Linked DNA regions of Homo sapiens. The protein of the gene in region 2 interacts with the protein of the main gene of each other region in a pairwise test. Each region holds a gene or a part of one and is shown on either strand. Other genes may lie near its edges.

The links. Proteins that work in one complex are often made in the same cells at the same time.
Region 1: the proteins of SEMA6A (region 2) and SH3RF1 interact in a two-hybrid assay, tested with the Homo sapiens proteins (one study listed by BioGRID and IntAct).
Region 3: the proteins of SEMA6A (region 2) and ITSN2 interact in a two-hybrid assay, tested with the Homo sapiens proteins (one study listed by BioGRID and IntAct).

Annotation. Positions count from the first base shown.
Region 1 is NC_000004.12:169,134,902-169,141,956, reverse strand, and holds part of SH3RF1 (E3 ubiquitin-protein ligase SH3RF1), read left to right. Parts: intron 1-5,336; coding exon 5,337-5,639; intron 5,640-7,055. UniProt on the Homo sapiens protein: Has E3 ubiquitin-protein ligase activity. In the absence of an external substrate, it can catalyze self-ubiquitination. Stimulates ubiquitination of potassium channel KCNJ1, enhancing it's dynamin-dependent and clathrin-independent endocytosis.
Region 2 is NC_000005.10:116,443,055-116,445,823, reverse strand, and holds the end of SEMA6A (semaphorin-6A isoform 2 precursor), read left to right. Parts: 3' UTR 1-2,269; downstream 2,270-2,769. UniProt on the Homo sapiens protein: Cell surface receptor for PLXNA2 that plays an important role in cell-cell signaling. Required for normal granule cell migration in the developing cerebellum.
Region 3 is NC_000002.12:24,203,482-24,210,536, forward strand, and holds part of ITSN2 (intersectin-2), read right to left. Parts: intron 6,553-7,055; coding exon 6,337-6,552; intron 5,741-6,336; coding exon 5,619-5,740; intron 4,839-5,618; coding exon 4,756-4,838; intron 2,795-4,755; coding exon of another isoform or gene 2,766-2,794; exon of another isoform or gene 2,763-2,765; intron 1,817-2,762; coding exon 1,733-1,816; intron 938-1,732; coding exon 764-937; intron 303-763; coding exon 145-302; 3' UTR 1-144.

The DNA.
Region 1 (7,055 bases), on a different chromosome or scaffold from region 2:
CCTGTAGTCCCAGCTATTCAGGAGGCTGAGGCCGGAGAATGACGTGAACCTGGGAGGCAGAACTTGCAGTGAGCCGACATCACGCCACTGCACTCCAGCCTGGGCAACAGAGCGAGACTCCATCTCAAAAAAAAAAAAAAAAAAGCAAAAATTAGGCGGGCCATGGTGGCACTTGCCTATAATCTCTGCTACTCAGGAGGCTGAGGCAGGAGAATCACTTGAATCGGGGAGGCAGAGGTTGCACTGAGCTGAGATTGTGCCACTGCACTCTAGCCTCAATGACAGAGGGAGACCCTGTCTCCAAAAAAAAAAAAAAAGTATTTATATCAGTCTATAAGAAAAATACTAACAATCCAATAGAAATATGGATAGAGTATGGAAATAAGCAAATCCTAAAAAAAGAAAATAGATGCTTAATCTCATTAATAAATAGAAATACAAGTTAAAACAATATAATACACCTTGTTACTTCAAAAAACGATTTTTAAACTTACACTTTGATCTAGCAAATTCTACTTTTAGGAGTTTACCCTATGGATATGCTTGTACGAGCCTGCCAAGACATAGTAAATGGCAACGTCTCTATAAAATGGAATACCATGCTATCAGCCTATCCCTATTGATATGCAAAGATGTTCATGAAATATTATTTCATGAGAGAATAGAATGGATTGCTTGGTTTTATTTGTATTAAAAATCAATAAAGTAGATACATGTATAACAACATCTACATAGAAAATGAAGGATATGTTTTAAATTGTTAAATGGAAATCCATCTGGGAAGTGGGTTGGGAAGAGACAGATGTGGGGAACTGGCTGAGGCCTTTTACTTTTTACTTCATAATGTTCTATACCAAGGGTGTCCAATCTTTTGGCTTCCCTGGATCACATTGGAAGAAGAATTGTCCTGGGCCACACATAAAATACACTAACACTATCAATAGCTGATGAGCTTAAAAAAAAAAAAAAAAGAAAAGAAAAAACAAAACCTCAAAAAAAATCTCATAATGTTTTAAGAAAGTTTACAAATTTGTGTTGGGCTACATGTAGAGGACCGTGGGTTGGACAAGCTTGCTCTAGTGGGTTGTGAATTAAAATAATTACTTCTCAGATCTACTGTTTGTATCCTGTAGTGCTCAGAAGCTACAGACTGATTCATCTGTAAAGCTTCCTATAAAATAGTAACTATTCAACTTAGTTCTTATTAAAAAATTTTTTCTCTTTAAAATATTGTAAGTCCCGCCTTTTAAAAAAGGCTATATTCTCTCTAGCAAAGAGGGCAACCATACACACAAAAAAGTTTATTTTAATATTTCTTAAGCTGCCTTGTTGTTTTTATTAATATTATTTTTGTCAGTATTTCATCTCATATTTATTTATACTTCTGATAACTCTCAAAAACACATTCTTTCTACATTTTAGACTTTTTTCCAAAAAGGGGCATAAGAATTTTAAGAGTAATGAATAGAATCCCTGCTTTTATCTCCAGTATACTGAATTTTACCTTATATCCAACCTAAGTCTTATCAAAGCTCCTTACCAAATGCTTGGAAGAAGGTATTTTAGGATACAAATTTATTTTGCAGGTGATGAGTGTACTCCTAACATTAAAGGTCATAGTTAGATAAATGTCACAGAAAGCTCACACTACTGAGCTCAAACATTCATACATGAATTTTATCAAAATTCTACTAAAAGCTATCAGATTCTTGGTTTCCTATTGTTACCAAAGGTTGCTATACTTACAGCAAAAGCTGCTTTATGTTTCTGCCTGATTTACTTAATGCCTCTACCAAATAGTCTTAACTTTATGATTTTCTCTGGAACTGATACAGGAAGCAAGGAGCAGTGTTTTTTAATACTAATATGTGCTGCTTCAGAAGAAATCTCAAGTAATTTTAAAGTATGACAGCATCTTGCTAACAAATATTACTGTCCATGCATAAAAATCAAATGCAGAAAAAATATGCTAGGCTATTTAGAGGAATAGAAATCAAATAGAAAAATGAAACTTGTCCATTTAAAGTGAGATTATGCATTATACATGTGGAGAGCTAAAAGAGACCTAAAAATCATTGGCTCCAACTTACTTTATAGATTAGGAAGCTGTGAACAATAGAGGTAAGATGGCTCCCTTAAGGCCCCAAAGTTAGGTAATGGCTGTGCTAGGACTAGAACTGTGGTCTTCTACTTGCCAGTTGGCTTGTTACACCACTCCAGGATGTGTCTACCTGCATACACATGATTCTGCATAAATTTTTCCAAGCATCCAACCCTATGGTCCAGCAGTTCTACTCCTGGACATGTACCCAATATCCAGATGGGAGCTTATGTCCACCAAAAGACACATAACTAGATTATTCACAGCAGCATTGTTCTTAATAGCCACTGTCTATTGGAAGGAAGGAAGACAGGAAAGGAGGAAAGAAAACCCACATGTTAATCAGCAGTAGAATGGATAGATAAATTATAGTGTATTTACACAATAGAATATTACACAGCAATTTAAAAGAAAGAACTACTGACTCATGGAGCAATATGGATAAATCTCAAAAAGCATATTGTTGAGCAAAAGTAGCTAGACATAAGAAATTATGGAAAGCACTGTGTTATTTTTATGCCTGTTTGTAAGGTCCTTAAGGGCAGAGATCATTTCTCTGCATTTGTAGATCTTTAACACCAAGCACATTATTCAGCACATAATTGGTGCTCAGAGTCCAGGCACAGTGGCTCACGCCTGTAATCCCAGCACTTTGAAAGGCTGAGACAGGAGGATCGCTTGAGCTCAGAAGTTCGACACCAGCTAGATATCATAATGAGACCTCATTGCTACTAAAATTAGCTGGGTGTGGTGTTGCATACCTATAGTCCCAACTACTCAGGAGGTTGAGGCAAGAGGATTGCTTGAGCCCAGGAGTTCGAGGCTGCACTGAGCAATGAATGTGCCACTGCACTTCAGCCAGGGCAACAGAGTGAGACCTTTCCCCCCAGTCCCCCCAAAAATAGATGCTCAATGTGTATTTATTTTAATGGAGAATATATGATATGAAGAAAGACACAAAGGAAGCACCCAGTATTGTTCTGTTGAGAAAGCAGCAGGAAATATTGGGAACAATATTTTAATCCTCAGATGTTTATACCAGAGCACAGCATATGGAAACCTGAAATACTAACACAATGTTGAATATATAACTGACACTTGGCCAGCCAGGTATGATCATGATGAGACTATAGTAATTTTTCAGAACCTTTCAAAACAAGCACCACTAATGGAGTCTATTGTTTGACCCCAGAATTAATCTAAACATGATATCAACTAGATTTGATAGTTTCCTCTATTCATATTTTTTGCCTCAATGAGAAGAAAGTCTTCTCAACTCCCTCCTCTACTTCTTACTCACTGGGACAGGAGTGCTGAGTTGATCAGTCAGTTTCCAGCACACTGATTAGGTTTGCACTTTCAAAGATTTGTTTCTAGGTGTCTAAATAAGCTTATGGTGGAAGAAGACATTCTCTGGCTCCTTTTTCTCCAGCATTGCCAGGTGTGCTGGCCCTTCATTTCATGAGGATGTTGTGTTTGGGATGGAGGAGATGAAGTAGCTTTTCAATCTGCTTTGTTTCCAGGCTCCTTACACCCAACCTGTGCAGGAAAGAGGACCCTACCCCTCCATGGTTCACTGCAGTTTATTAGAGCTCTACAGTGAGGTTCAGGCCACTCCCACTATAATATAAAGCATTACTTTGCTTCATTTGGGCTTTTTATTCTCAAGGTGGGATAGCTAGACCAAGAAAGGATTTGTAAATTCTGGATCTCCTGGCCAATTGCCTTGAAAATGCTTGTAATAGGGCCACCCTCAACTAGAACCTCATTTTCATCCCTAAACACATATCGGAAGAAGTCTTTATGATCTTTCTCCCGCCATTGGTACTTCAGGCATTGACAGGTGTTATTCTGGCGTTACTGCCTATTATTTCTGAATGATTATCATGTGGAGAAACTTCTTAAAGTCTGAAGAAGAGATATGGTCATGTTTGATAAAGATTTATCTTACTAATTATAGATGAGACAAGCCACCTGAATTTGAGTCCCCAAGGAGCCTTAGGAACAAATTGTCAGTCAATTTGCAATCATCTGTAGAAGCAGTGACTGCTGAGCTCCAGTTAACATGGCTTTGTGAGGAAGCGGTTGTTCCAAAGCAAGTTCATTTCATAAAATATTGACTGAGAGAGTTTCCATTCTTCTAGTAGAGTGATCTTATCAACAGGATGAGAAGACATAGCCTGAACAATTTAAGTGGGAAAAATAGTACATGATATTATTTTATATAAAGACATTTGTGAAGTGCCCAATGTGTAATGCCGAGATGGAAAAATCACTGTTTTCCTTAATATTATATTTAAGTTACCTTTTAAAAGTTTATTATTTTGCATCTCAATTTTTTTTGAGAGGTTGAGCTATGTTTCCATTACTGTAATATCTGGGAAAGTTATATGCAGCTTATTGTCACTGAAGCTTTCCAGAAATGTTTTATTTTACCCTAGGGAAAACAAAAGGCTTGTGTTCTTTCCTTTCTTGCTGATAATATCAGTGGAGTGCACAGATTTTGACCCCTGGTACTCTTAATTTACACTGGGGCTTTTCAGATAGATGAAGTTAACTTGCCAATAGGACTTGAATTTCATGTCTTACCCTGTTATGATTTAAAGTACGTGCACATAGGATGATAGCTGATACAATGACATGACAAAAAACATATTAAGAGTTTCTGCCAGCTTTTTGTGAGGTTCTCCCAGAATACAGAAAGAAAGGCAGGAGGTAAATATACATGGAAGCACATGAGTTCATTTTGAATGGTTTTATTCTTTGTCTTCTTGCTCATTTTTACCAAACCCAGAAGTTGCCCCTTCATTGTTCAGTTGTGCTTTGAGCAAATACCCAACCATTATTGTGCAACAGGGTGTCACGAAAAGGGTGATAAATACACCATTTTGATTGCTCTTCTCGAAATTTCACAGTGAGCTGAAATAAATTTTCATTTGTTATTGGCAAGTTTTAAAATCAGACATTATGGAAATTCTTAAGAAAATTGTCTTTTACTCTTTCAGTCTTGCAATGGAATTGTTTATTCTTGATTTAATATCTACCTGTGATATAGATACAATGAAGTCCCAATATTGAGAGAAGAGATATCTCACATGGGAAAAACAGACACTGCATAGGCAAACTTTAAAGTAGTGACTTTAAATTTTGGATGAAATCATGTTGGAAATAAACCTCAGGGAATTCTTAGGAATTGTTTAACCTTCTTGTGTTGGTTTGTTGGTTGCTTTTGCAGTTTAACTCGGCTGCTAAGCAGCTGATAGAATGGGATAAGCCTCCTGTGCCAGGAGTTGATGCTGGAGAATGTTCCTCGGCAGCAGCCCAGAGCAGCACTGCCCCAAAGCACTCCGACACCAAGAAGAACACCAAAAAGCGGCACTCCTTCACTTCCCTCACTATGGCCAACAAGTCCTCCCAGGCATCCCAGAACCGCCACTCCATGGAGATCAGCCCCCCTGTCCTCATCAGCTCCAGCAACCCCACTGCTGCTGCACGGATCAGCGAGCTGTCTGGGCTCTCCTGCAGTGCCCCTTCTCAGGTAAATCCTCAAACAAGTGTTATATAAAAAGAGCTCACCCACAAAAGGATCAACTTACAAACATGTTTGCTCACTGGCTGACAAACATTGCTTATTTTGAACTTCTGAAGATAGTAACTTTTCTGGGAAGCAAAACCTGTCTTCATTTTGTAAGTGGAAAAATGGAGAAGGGAAAGCTAACTTGAGTGTATCAACCCAGAACTAACTACTCTGTCATTTTCAAAGGAAAGATCAGAACTTACAAGATGAGTTATATAATACTTACCAGTTTCACCAAGCAATCACTCAGCCTTACAGAACTTTCTCACAGTACTGCTTTGGGAGATCTTGCCAACTAAAACTTTATCTCCACCCAGATTTAAGATGCCATGGTCCAAACTCGTGACGTTTGTAGTTGCTTGTATCTATGTAACTTACCTTAATATGTAGGCTTCCCAGAATTATAGAGAAGAGAAAAAGAGCAAGGACAGAAAGAAGCATTTAATTTAAATTAGAAATTGACCTCACACTTTCTAAGTTCATTAGTTCATTACAACTTTGGACTGGTATGTAAAAAATAGCCACGCGTTATTCTTAGGTTTATAAAAATACATGGGATGACTGGGGCATTCATTCAATCATTCATTCATTCATTTGGCAGACATTTATTGAGCACTTTACTATTAGACCCTTCTAGGCACTGTGTATACCATGATATCTAAAATATAGCAATTTGCTGTGTTAGGCTTTAATTCTGCACTACAAAAAGAACCTAATTATAACCCTGCCCAAGCCACGGGGCTGCTATCATTATCCACTTAGGTGATGGCTGTATTTTGTTCAACTTAAAGGTCAAAGAATCTAGTTCAAAGCTGCCTGTCACAAGCAGAAGGAATTTCTTTCAAGTCTCATGTTTCATCTTGAAAATTCATGCAGATTTTACATTCTGCTCCACCATATAGCTATGGTGGTTTTTTTTTCTTTAAACATTAAAATGAAATTATGTCCCCTTAAAGAAAAAGAAAGAAATACCAGTCCTGGTCCTCAAAAAGTTTACATTCTAGTAAGTGCCTATTTTGGACCACAGAATGAAAATGTAAAATACAGTTTTTGATATCCCTTGCCATTTTTTTCTCAGCCTCATGTTTGTTTGTTTGTTTGTTTTTAATAGAGATGGGGTCTCACCTTGTTGCCCAGGCTGGTAACAAGCTCTTGGCCTCAAGTGAACATCCTACCTGGGCCTCCCAAAGTGGTGGGATTACAAGTATGAGCCACAGCCTCAGCCTCATTTATTTGACCCTGCTCCTTTAGATTTATACTGCGTGTTTCAAGTTAAATGCATTCACTTTCTGAATGGGATTGTGGGATTGTTGTTTTGTGGCATTTTTAGGTGGTAGGGCCATGAAACTCTTATTGAGAAATAAAGACACGCACAAC
Region 2 (2,769 bases):
AACTATTTAACGTGAAATCCATTAACTGGAATAATTGAGTTTCTTTATTTTTACAATAAATTCACTGAGTAAATAAGTTGGAGCTGGAATTCTGAGCTTTGTGTTTGGACTGTCTGGTCTGTAGCTAAAGGAAAAAGTTAGGAGGGGAATATTTATTTAAATCTATCAGTTCATTGCCTGGTCAGGTCTCTGGCCTATAAACATGCAAAAAAACTAATTCATGTTAAAGTCCTTCCAGATCCTAATTTCTAAAGCAATCAGGAGAGAAAGCTTTTAGAATGGCACATCATATCTCATTGATGCCAACATGGTTTTGTCCATGGTTCTGACTTTCTGTGAAGGCACCAGCTTGCAATATGCCATCCCATTTCACCTTGCATGTGAGACAGCAAACAAAATCCACAAATGGTGTGAACTAATATGCTGGCTGCTACCTTGCATAAATTAATGATTTGATCACACGGGTTCTTCGTGGGGTTACATCTGTGAATAGCCTGTTTTCCACATGTAAATTTGTGCCTTACACCTTGAGTTGTGTACACTTGTAAACTCTTTATGATCAACTGTTCCCCCTTTTGAAATAAGTGCAGATATTTATTTAACCCTCCCTTCCCCACCCTCTGCCCCACTTCCAGCCCTCTGAAAGATTGGAGTCAAGCAGATGGAAGAATGCAGTGGTGATAGTTGTCATGCGACAGCCTGAGAACGCTGGGCAGCACCACACCCTCCAATTCACACTGCCTTCTAGTTGTGCCAACTGGAACCACCCTTTGGCTGTGCTGCGAAGCATGGACCCCAGTGTTGTTGTGGGTGTGTCAAATCCCCTTTCATCCTCAAGAGCTCCCTGCTTCCCTTAGATTATTTCAATACGGTGATATCCTTATTTGCTAGCAGAAAAGGGACTAACGTCCCATTCCTCTTTTCTGCTGCGTCCACTGGCTAGAGAGCAGGCGGTGCGCGGTTGGGCAGACACCTGGGAGGAGTCTCCAAGCCATGTGCACAGCACACACGTGCAGTGCACACAAAGAAATGACATGGAAATAGATGCAGGCAGGCTGGTCCCTGCTGTGATTAACGAGTAACTCCAAGTACAAGGCCGACCACAATGGATGCTGCAAAAACGTTGACTGGGGCAAAGGATTTTTTATTTTATTTTTTATTTTGTTAATTATGTTTTTAGGGGATGGGAGGTGGTGTGTGTTTTTCTCCTCTTGGTTTTCATTTGCTCAAGCACACAAAAGGGACTTTTGTTTACTCTATCATGAACAAAGGAACTGTCCACATACTGTAAACCATGAGCAGTGTTGTTGTTGTTTTTTTAAACAGTATATTTGGTGGTCTCTTTGTCTGCTTTTATTTCCAGTTCGATCTTCTGGGTTTAGTTTTGTCTTTAAAAAGAATTCAAAAAAAGACTGACAATGACAGTTTTGAGTTGGATAGTGAAAAAGTGGAGCCTCCATAATCAGTGTGGTTGCCTTCAGACCTGAGTACTTAGCTGAGGGTGGGTGAGAGCCCTTTGTTCCAAAAGTCCATTAGTTTTGCTGTTGTTTAGGAGTAGGTGGTTGTTGTTGTTTTTACTTTTTTTTTTTTTGGCTTTTGTAATGGAATCCATGTTCACATCCTGTGAACTCTGTCTCCTGAAACCCTGAAGTATTTCCTAGAACCTGAAATATTGTTTTCTTCCTTGAATTTTCTCTAGAAATGCAGAAATTAGGAAGGTGATGGGTCTGTATCCCCCTGCCCCCTTCTTTCCCATGCTTGACTCCCGAGAGTACTGGCAGTGCAGCACCCATCATTGACGTAAGCGGCTGTCTTGTCCAGTGTTTGTAGGCATCACTGCCTCAGCTGTTAAGGAGACCTGTGTCAAAACTTACATCCACATTCCTACACCCCCACAACCCATCACTTCTGGTGTTAACCCTAAAATACCCACATGTATTGAGCTGGTCTTCTGCATTTAAGTATTTCTCCCCAGTTTTTTTCCCCACTGTGTGTGGGGGGAGGGTCCATAAACCCGAGTGTGCCTTTGCTTTCCACCCTTGCTAGACACTGGTAGATGCAACAAACTCAGATTTATATTTGTTGTAAAGTTGTAAAAATATTGTGATGTCACCAATTTTCCTTCCATCTCCACATCCCCTAACATCTGATTCACGACTTAATGTATGTTGTAAGAAAAGAAAAAAGAAAAGAAAAAAAGGGAAAAAAGAAAAGCAAGGAAAAGGCTCTTTATTACTTAAAAGTAATAAAACCTGACTGTTCTATATTATCTTTTGTGTCCTGAATGCTTTTATTTATCTCTTAATTTTTCCTTTTTAAGCTGCTCTCCTCCCCACCCTTTGTGGGTATGATGCTACTCTTTCCTCCATTTGTATCTGGCTTCCAAAGCATACATAACGGTATAGTTTGATGTATTTGTTTGCAGTGTCCACACCCAGCCACCCCCACCCAAATTATTGACGTGTTTCTCTGCTCAAACCCAGCCTGGAGCAGGATTTTAGCAGAAGCCACCGGTAATTAAAAAGCAGAGCATGCATTGGCTCCTTCTATTCATTTTATGCATTTTCTTTTTATGGGCTTGTTCATCATCAAACATTTATGGTAGGCTTGATAGTTTAAGAGATCAAGGCTAGGATTTTAGTATGTAGGGTCCACTAAAAATAGATCCTTGCACAGATGTGACTTCAGTCTTCTTACATATTAATAAGGTGGAGGGGGCTGGATTTTACTCCTTGTTAGCATTTATCTTTTGTAACACAGAGGGTATAT
Region 3 (7,055 bases), on a different chromosome or scaffold from region 2:
GTGCAGGAAAACAGAGCCCCCAGCGTGCATGGCTTTGTGAGGGGTGAAGCTGCATGGTGCTCCCTCAGCCCCAAGAGAGCGCAGTCTCTCATTCTCCAGCCCCAGCCTTGTGGGCTGTCCCGCTGGTGCTGTCCTTTAGAACCCCTACAGGAGAGTTTTTTGCTCAAAAAGCTGCAGGTCAAAACGGACCCAGACCTCCCCGGTGGGGACCTCATGCAGCAGCAGTCGGCGGGTCATAGGGCCTTTGCTTTCCTGTTCTGTTCGAATTTTTGCCACTGGAATTTCAGTACGACCCAGGAAATCTGGTGAATAAACACAGGAGAGTCAGAAGTCTTTCTTCTTTATAAAATCATTAAAGAGCTACATCCGGAAGAAGTGGATTCATAAAACCTTCAAATCTGAAACAAGGAACTTCTTTTGGCTCATGGCTGTTGAATGTCGTGAGTGGGTGTGTGGGGAATGATGGCAGGTTTGTGTGTGAGAAGCTGCCACATGGAATTCAAATCTCCATTCTGAGAATGCTCCAGGAGTGGTGTTCACGTCGTGTGTGTAGGGAGTGATGGGTCAAAGACCTGAAACACATCTCAGGCCACCTCCTCCCCTGAGGAAGGCCACCCACCTGCTGCCAAAGCGAGATGACACAGGCCTGTGTCACTTCCCTGAAGTGGCATGGGGTCTGCACACAGCTGAAGCCCCTAGATCTGGACTCCAGGATCTAGGAAACTGGGAAAGCCTTTAGATCCCCTGGCTGAGCGACACTTACCATCTGGTGAAAACTGGTCTCTGTCAAACAGGGTGAGACACAGCACGTCTTGGTAGAGATCCTTAATAAAGAACTGGCAGTTAAAATTCCACTTGGGATTGAGTGTGTCCTGGATGGTCCTGGTGGTGTAGCTCTGGGAGCCCATGCTGATTTCACAGTATGGGTTGCTCTTTCCTGAACAAAAACAAACCACAGACACATGTGGTGCATGCAGGTAAAACGAAGCGACTGACAGTGCCCTCCCTGAGCAGAAGCAGGATTCCAATAATGGGTCACTCGAGACCATGGCAGCAGGAGCCGCTGCCTGGGGCACCATATCCCTGTGGTCTAGTAACAGGGTCTCCAAGTTCCCAGTGCTGACAGCAGCATTAACTGGGGAGTGGCCGAGAGCTCCACCGCCAGGACCACTCCGCACGGAACAATCCTGGGTGAGTGTCACTGCAACCTGCTGCATGCTTCCTCGGCGCAGACACACTCGGGAAGGCGGGCACTGGCACTTACTGGGAAAACAGTGATAAGAATATTGGTCCAATATGCGCATTTTAGTGGCACTGGACACACTGTTAGAAAGCATTCCTTTATTCAGTGTTCAGAAGAGTCATCAGTGGCTGGGCGCAGTGGCACTTTGTCAGTGACAAAGTGCTGTAATCCCAGCACTTTGGGAGGCCGAGGCGGGCAGATCACTTGAGGTCAGGAGTTCGAGACCAGCCTGGCCAACATGGTGAAACCCTGTGTCTACTAAAAATACAAGAATTTGCCAGGCGTGGTGGTGCACACCTGTAATCCCAGCTACTCAGGAGGCTAAGCCTTGAGAATCACTTGTACCCCAGAGGCAGAGGTTGCAGTGAGCCAAGATCGTGCCACTGCACTCCAGCCTAGGTTATACACTGAGACTCTGTCTCAAAAAGTCATCAGCAAAAACTGGGGCAGGGCAGTTATGTCTGCTGAATGAATCAAGGCAGTATTTACCATTTGGTTTGCAGGCTTTTAATTCTGTAGCTTCAATGACATGCACCATCAGGCGCCCAATGCCTGAAGTCTTTTGGGAGCGGGCTACAAAAGAGGAAGACAAGTCTCATTAATCTCTTCTCCAAGGATGCAGACCCTGTCTTTCAAACCAACCATAACACTACCGGCTCCCTGTCCCCATCTGCCACTGCCCTGGGCCCAACAGCCCAGCATCTGGCTGCCCTGTGCCTTTCCCCAGGCTGTGTTGCCTGCTAGGAAGCCCCTGCTTGCTCTTTCTGCCCTGCCTGCTTTCTCTGCCCGTCAGCATCCTACTCATCCTTCAAGATGCAGGTCTGATCCCACATCTACCTCCCAGATCCCTTCCCTCCTCTGCATCCAGTATCCCTCGCTTATGAGCAGCCCACAGCCTGCTGGGTCTGAAATCGTGTGTAATGTCTGTCTCCTCTGCCAGACAGGAGCCAGGGTAGAGCATGGACTGTTTCGATCATCCTTATATTAACCCCTCAATTGCCTAGCAAATAGTAATATTAATAAAATAATACATGGTATTTGTGCAGCACTTAATAGCAGCTAACATTTACTGGATACTTACTTTGTGTTAGGCATGTGCTAGACTTATGTAAATTATATTATTTAAACTGCATAATTACCTGATAATGTAGCTCCCCATTTTACTGATGAGAAACACTGAGGCTTAGAAAGGACTGGAGTGTGATCCACTCAGAGCTGCTAAATGGCAGGGTCAACATTTAAACATCAGATACCAAAGTCCAGGCTCAGTTAAGCCTAGCACAGAGCCTGGCACAAAGTAATTGACAAATGTGGGAAGGACTGAACGCACGGACGATGCACAGCAACATATGCAGATGCTGATGGGAAGCAAAACTCAGGCAGAAAAACCGGATTGACATCTTTGGCCAATTAAGAGATCATATGCGTTATGAAATGATCAATCATTGATTTTTCAACAGCAAGCTTTTAAAGTACCATTAAAATAACACTAAATTAGCAAAAGCTGTTTTAAACATACCTTTTAGGAGTATATAACAAAATGGGGGAAACCTGAATAAAAAAACACATAAAGAGCTGCAACTATAGCAGCCAGGAAGCTGGTGGGAGGCCCAGGCAGGAGGGCAGGCTGCATGGGGGGGCCCGGCGGGAAGGAAGGTGGAGATGCAGGGGGCCGGCGGGGAGGAAGGTGGAGATGCAGCTGGCTCAGAGCACAGGCCCCCTGTGGGGTGGAGGCCACAGGCTGGCCTGGCACAGCTGGAGATGCAGCAGGGAGGTTGGGGCCTGGCATTCATGTGGAGGCTGGAGAAGAATGTGGGAGCTCTGGTCTGAAGGCCACGGTGGGGCAGGGTGGGGTGGGGGGTGCTTTACAAAGACCATTGCGGCTCCACTGAGCAGGTGAGTGATCTGTGCCATGAACACAGAGGACATCACCGGTGCAACAAATCTGGAGCCCCACTGGCATAAGTCACATGCTGGCCCCGATGTGGGAGGGAGTTGCCTTGAGGGAGCTTATGGCCATTAAGTGAGAAAAGCAGGGACTGAGAGGGCGCAAGCAGAGGCAACAGAGGATGAGCGCCCGGAGGATGATCGCAGCCTCAGGACAGCGGGGGGTCCAGGTAGAAGTCACACTGGTTAGGGCAAGAGGGTGTCATGGAGGAGGCTGTGTTTGACGTGGGCCTTGAAGGATGGGAAGAATTTAAGGTGAGGGCAGAGCACTTGAGCTGGAGGGGGAGCTCACATGGGAAGGCCAGGCAGGGCAACAATGGGCTGCTCAACTAGGCAGCTGGATGGGCCGGGCACAGGAAAGAGCTAGGGATGGGGCTGGGTGGCAGGTAGTAGTGGGGATGGGCCCTGAGTGTGGGGTAAGAAATGTGTCGTTAATTTGGGAGGCAATAGGGAAGATACTTCAGCAGGAAGAGGTATAAGAGCAGCTCTGGAAAAAAGAATACTCCAGAAATGAAGAGGATGGGTGGCAGAGAGGAAAGAGAGCCTTGTGCTGCAGCCTGGGTGGGAGATCGGGGGCCTGTGATACGGGGACAGGAAAGGGCGATGGGAAAGTGGCGAGGGAGGAGGACTGCAGTGCAGCTGACCAGGTGTGAGGTGCCAGGGAGGGGCCTGGGTGGCCAGGGACCACACTACTGTCCACAGAGGGTCCCAGGAGGAGCTGCTGCTGGAAGGAGGCTGGTGGTCCCTTGGGAAAAGCCGATGTGTGATGTGGGAGCAGCGGGGCAGGTGGTTCTCTGGAGGGTGCTGTTCAGAGGCGCGGGCTTGGGAGAGTGTGGCTAGCCTGACCCTGAAGCTGGGGGTCGGTGGGGTCCCCGAGGGAGAGCGCTACAGAGGTCGGGGAGAGGCCTGGGCAAGGGTGGAAGAAGAACTGGGAAGGCGGCCATGGGGTCCAGAGGGAAGGCAGCGCCTCAGTGACTGCCATCAGTGCAGGGAGCTGGGGCAGGGAAAGTGAGCTGAGCCACTAACTAGGCCACTGGTGTCACTGGTGGGGACAGGACGTGGACTGAAGTCTGGTGAAGTGAGAAGGGGGAGGAGGCAGGGGCAGAAGGATGGGGAGAGGGCAGACTTAGGGTCTAGGCCCCCTGGCTGCAAAGGGAGAGGGTGGATGGCAGGCCCTAGAGGAGGGTGAGGAGGAGCAGTGGCTGCTCAGGAGCTGAAGGGAGACAGACCACAGGTGTGGCATGTAATGGAGCACCACAGCCCAAGCAGAGGTGAGGTGAGTCATGGAGAGAAAGGAGTGGAGAAGGTGCAGTGGAGTGGGGGGGATAGAGGTGGTGCAGAGAGGGAGGTCCCGGAGCTGGCACTGCCAGCCCGTGTCTGTGTGGGCAGGAGCCCCAGGGAGGTTTGCAGTAGTAGCTTCAAGAGGGGAGGGCTCTCTGGTCTGATCCCGCAGCAGGTCTGGTCTTTCAGACCCGTCCCTATATCATCAGCCTGACTGCAGGAGCAGTGGCCGGCATTCCTAGGGCCCCTGGGGGCTGCGTCCCACCCTCCGGGCACCCTGATACCTTGGTAAGCTTTCTCACGCTTCTTCTTCTCGGTGTCGATGTACTGCTCAGACGCCGCCTTGATCTTCTGCACCCAGGCGGTCCTACGGGAGAAGCAGGGGCAGCCGTTGGCCGCATCCCACCCTCACAGGTCAGCGTGGAGCCCCAGAGCTCTGCACATGTTCTTCAGTCTTTTGCTAACCTCAACTTTCACAAGTTTCCTATCAAAGACCTGATATTAGTCAACTGAAAGATGCTTATGCTAATGGAGTATGAGAGCTGGTAGTGACCCTTCTTGGCTGACCACAAAATGCCAGGCACTCGCAAGGCGCTGGGACCTGGAGACAGATGATGCATTGGCCCCACGGATGATACCTGTCACGAGGGGTTCTAGCGCACACAGAGGAGCAGCAGCACCCCCCGGGTTGGCGCCGCGGAGGCACTGTTGGAGCTGCAGCCTGAAGGAAGCTGGGAACAGCGGGGATGGCACCCACACAAGGGCGCCTGAGGGGCGAAAGTCTGCAGGTGGAGGGACGAGGGCTGAGGCCTGTGGCCCAAGGAGGCCTCGGAAACCAGCAAAGCACAGTGGGCTGTCGCCTGCGGGCAGCCCCTGCAGGGACTGTAGCAGGGCCTCAGGTGCTGATCTGCCATTTGGGAAGGCTGCTGAGTGGTGTGGGGAGAGACTAGAAGCCGGGAAGCATGTTAGGAGGCAGCTGCAGTGACCAAGGCCTACCATGGGACTGGAGCAGAGGGGATGTGTTAAGAGAGGTTCAGGATACAGAATTAGTGGGGCTTAAGCACGGCTGGAGATGGGTTTATGGCAGAGGGAGACGTCCAGGCCTTCTCCCAGAGTTCAAGGCAGGCCACACATGGTCAGGACTGACCTCTCATTAATGTTGTCTGTTCGGAGGGTGTAGACCCGATCAATGTGGGAAATGTGGAAGACAGGCTCATCGCTGGAAGGGTCTGTGGGCAGTTTCACCAAGACTTCATTCAGGAAAATGGGCTGAAAGAATTAGGGCCAAAACACAGGCTGTGAGATGGGCTAGAACACTCCACCCGCCTATGTCCAGAGAGAGTTCTGTTTGTTCTGAAGAGCCTTGTTGAGAAGGAGAAAGGGGTCTAGCGTCTAAGGTCTTCTACACAGAACAAATGAAACCTCCATTTGTAAGAACAATGAAGCCTCCATTTCTGGAAAAGTCATTATCGAGGTGGGTCAGGTGTTGGGACTGGGTGGGGACAGGAGCTCCAAGCGCCCATGACGGCTGGTGCAAAAGGCTCTCTGCTAGCAACGCTGGTGCTGTGCTGGGGCTCGGCTTACAGAGACCCAATGCTGAATGCACACAGTGGTGAGCCCAGGTGTCACGCTGGCCAGGAGGAAGCCAGAATCTCAGCTGGAATCTGGCTGATGGCCTGTGGCAGGTGGGGAGTGCCCAGCTGCATGGGGCCCTTCCCGTGGGAAGCAGCAAAGGAAGCACGAGCGATCTGGAACCAGGTGAGGAGGGTCCCGTAAGGCCAGCTCAGGGTCTGCCAGGAAGGCCTTAAGATAGAGGCAACACCTCATTAGGCCCCTGATGCTACCCCCAGACGCGTGATACTCACCGTTTTATACATTTTGAATTGAGCATTGGACTTCGAGCTGAAAAGTTTCTCAGAGCCAGAGGAAACAGCAAACTGCTTGACCATGTAGGTAAGAAGCAGGAAGTCATTGAAGAGGAATCCGTGCAGTTCCTTGTTGCTCTTGGTCTTGTATAATTTCCCACTGTGTAAGAGCTTCCGGGGCCCCAGGCAGTTGGTGAGAGAGTTGAAAATAAGTTGCTTAAAGAGAAAGAAAATTTCACTTTTTAAATCCCGGCACAAACCATCCAGTGCCCCTGAGAGGCCAGTGCCCTGGGCCTGAGGATACTGTGGTGGAGTTTTCTAGGTGGGAATGTGGCTAGAATCATTCACTTTGCATGAAAGATCCTTAAATACATTACTCTTCAGAGTCCAAACTGGCCCAGTGAAAATCATTACTTCTAGCCACAGAACACTGATTCTACCAGCTGAATTCAAAGAACTCAAAACAAAAAATCCCAGTGTTCTCTCCTTAGGAGAAAGGAAGATGACAATCCAAGAAGGAATGCCCTTCATGCCTGCAATCCCAGCACTGTTGGGAGACAGAGGCGGGAGGATCACTTGACGCCAGGAGTTCAAGACCAGCCTGGCCAACATGGTGAAACCCCAGCTCTACTAAAAATACGAAAATTAGCTGGGCATCGTAGCAGATGCCTGTAGTCCCAGCTACTTGGGAGATGGAGGCCAGAGAATCGCTCCAACCC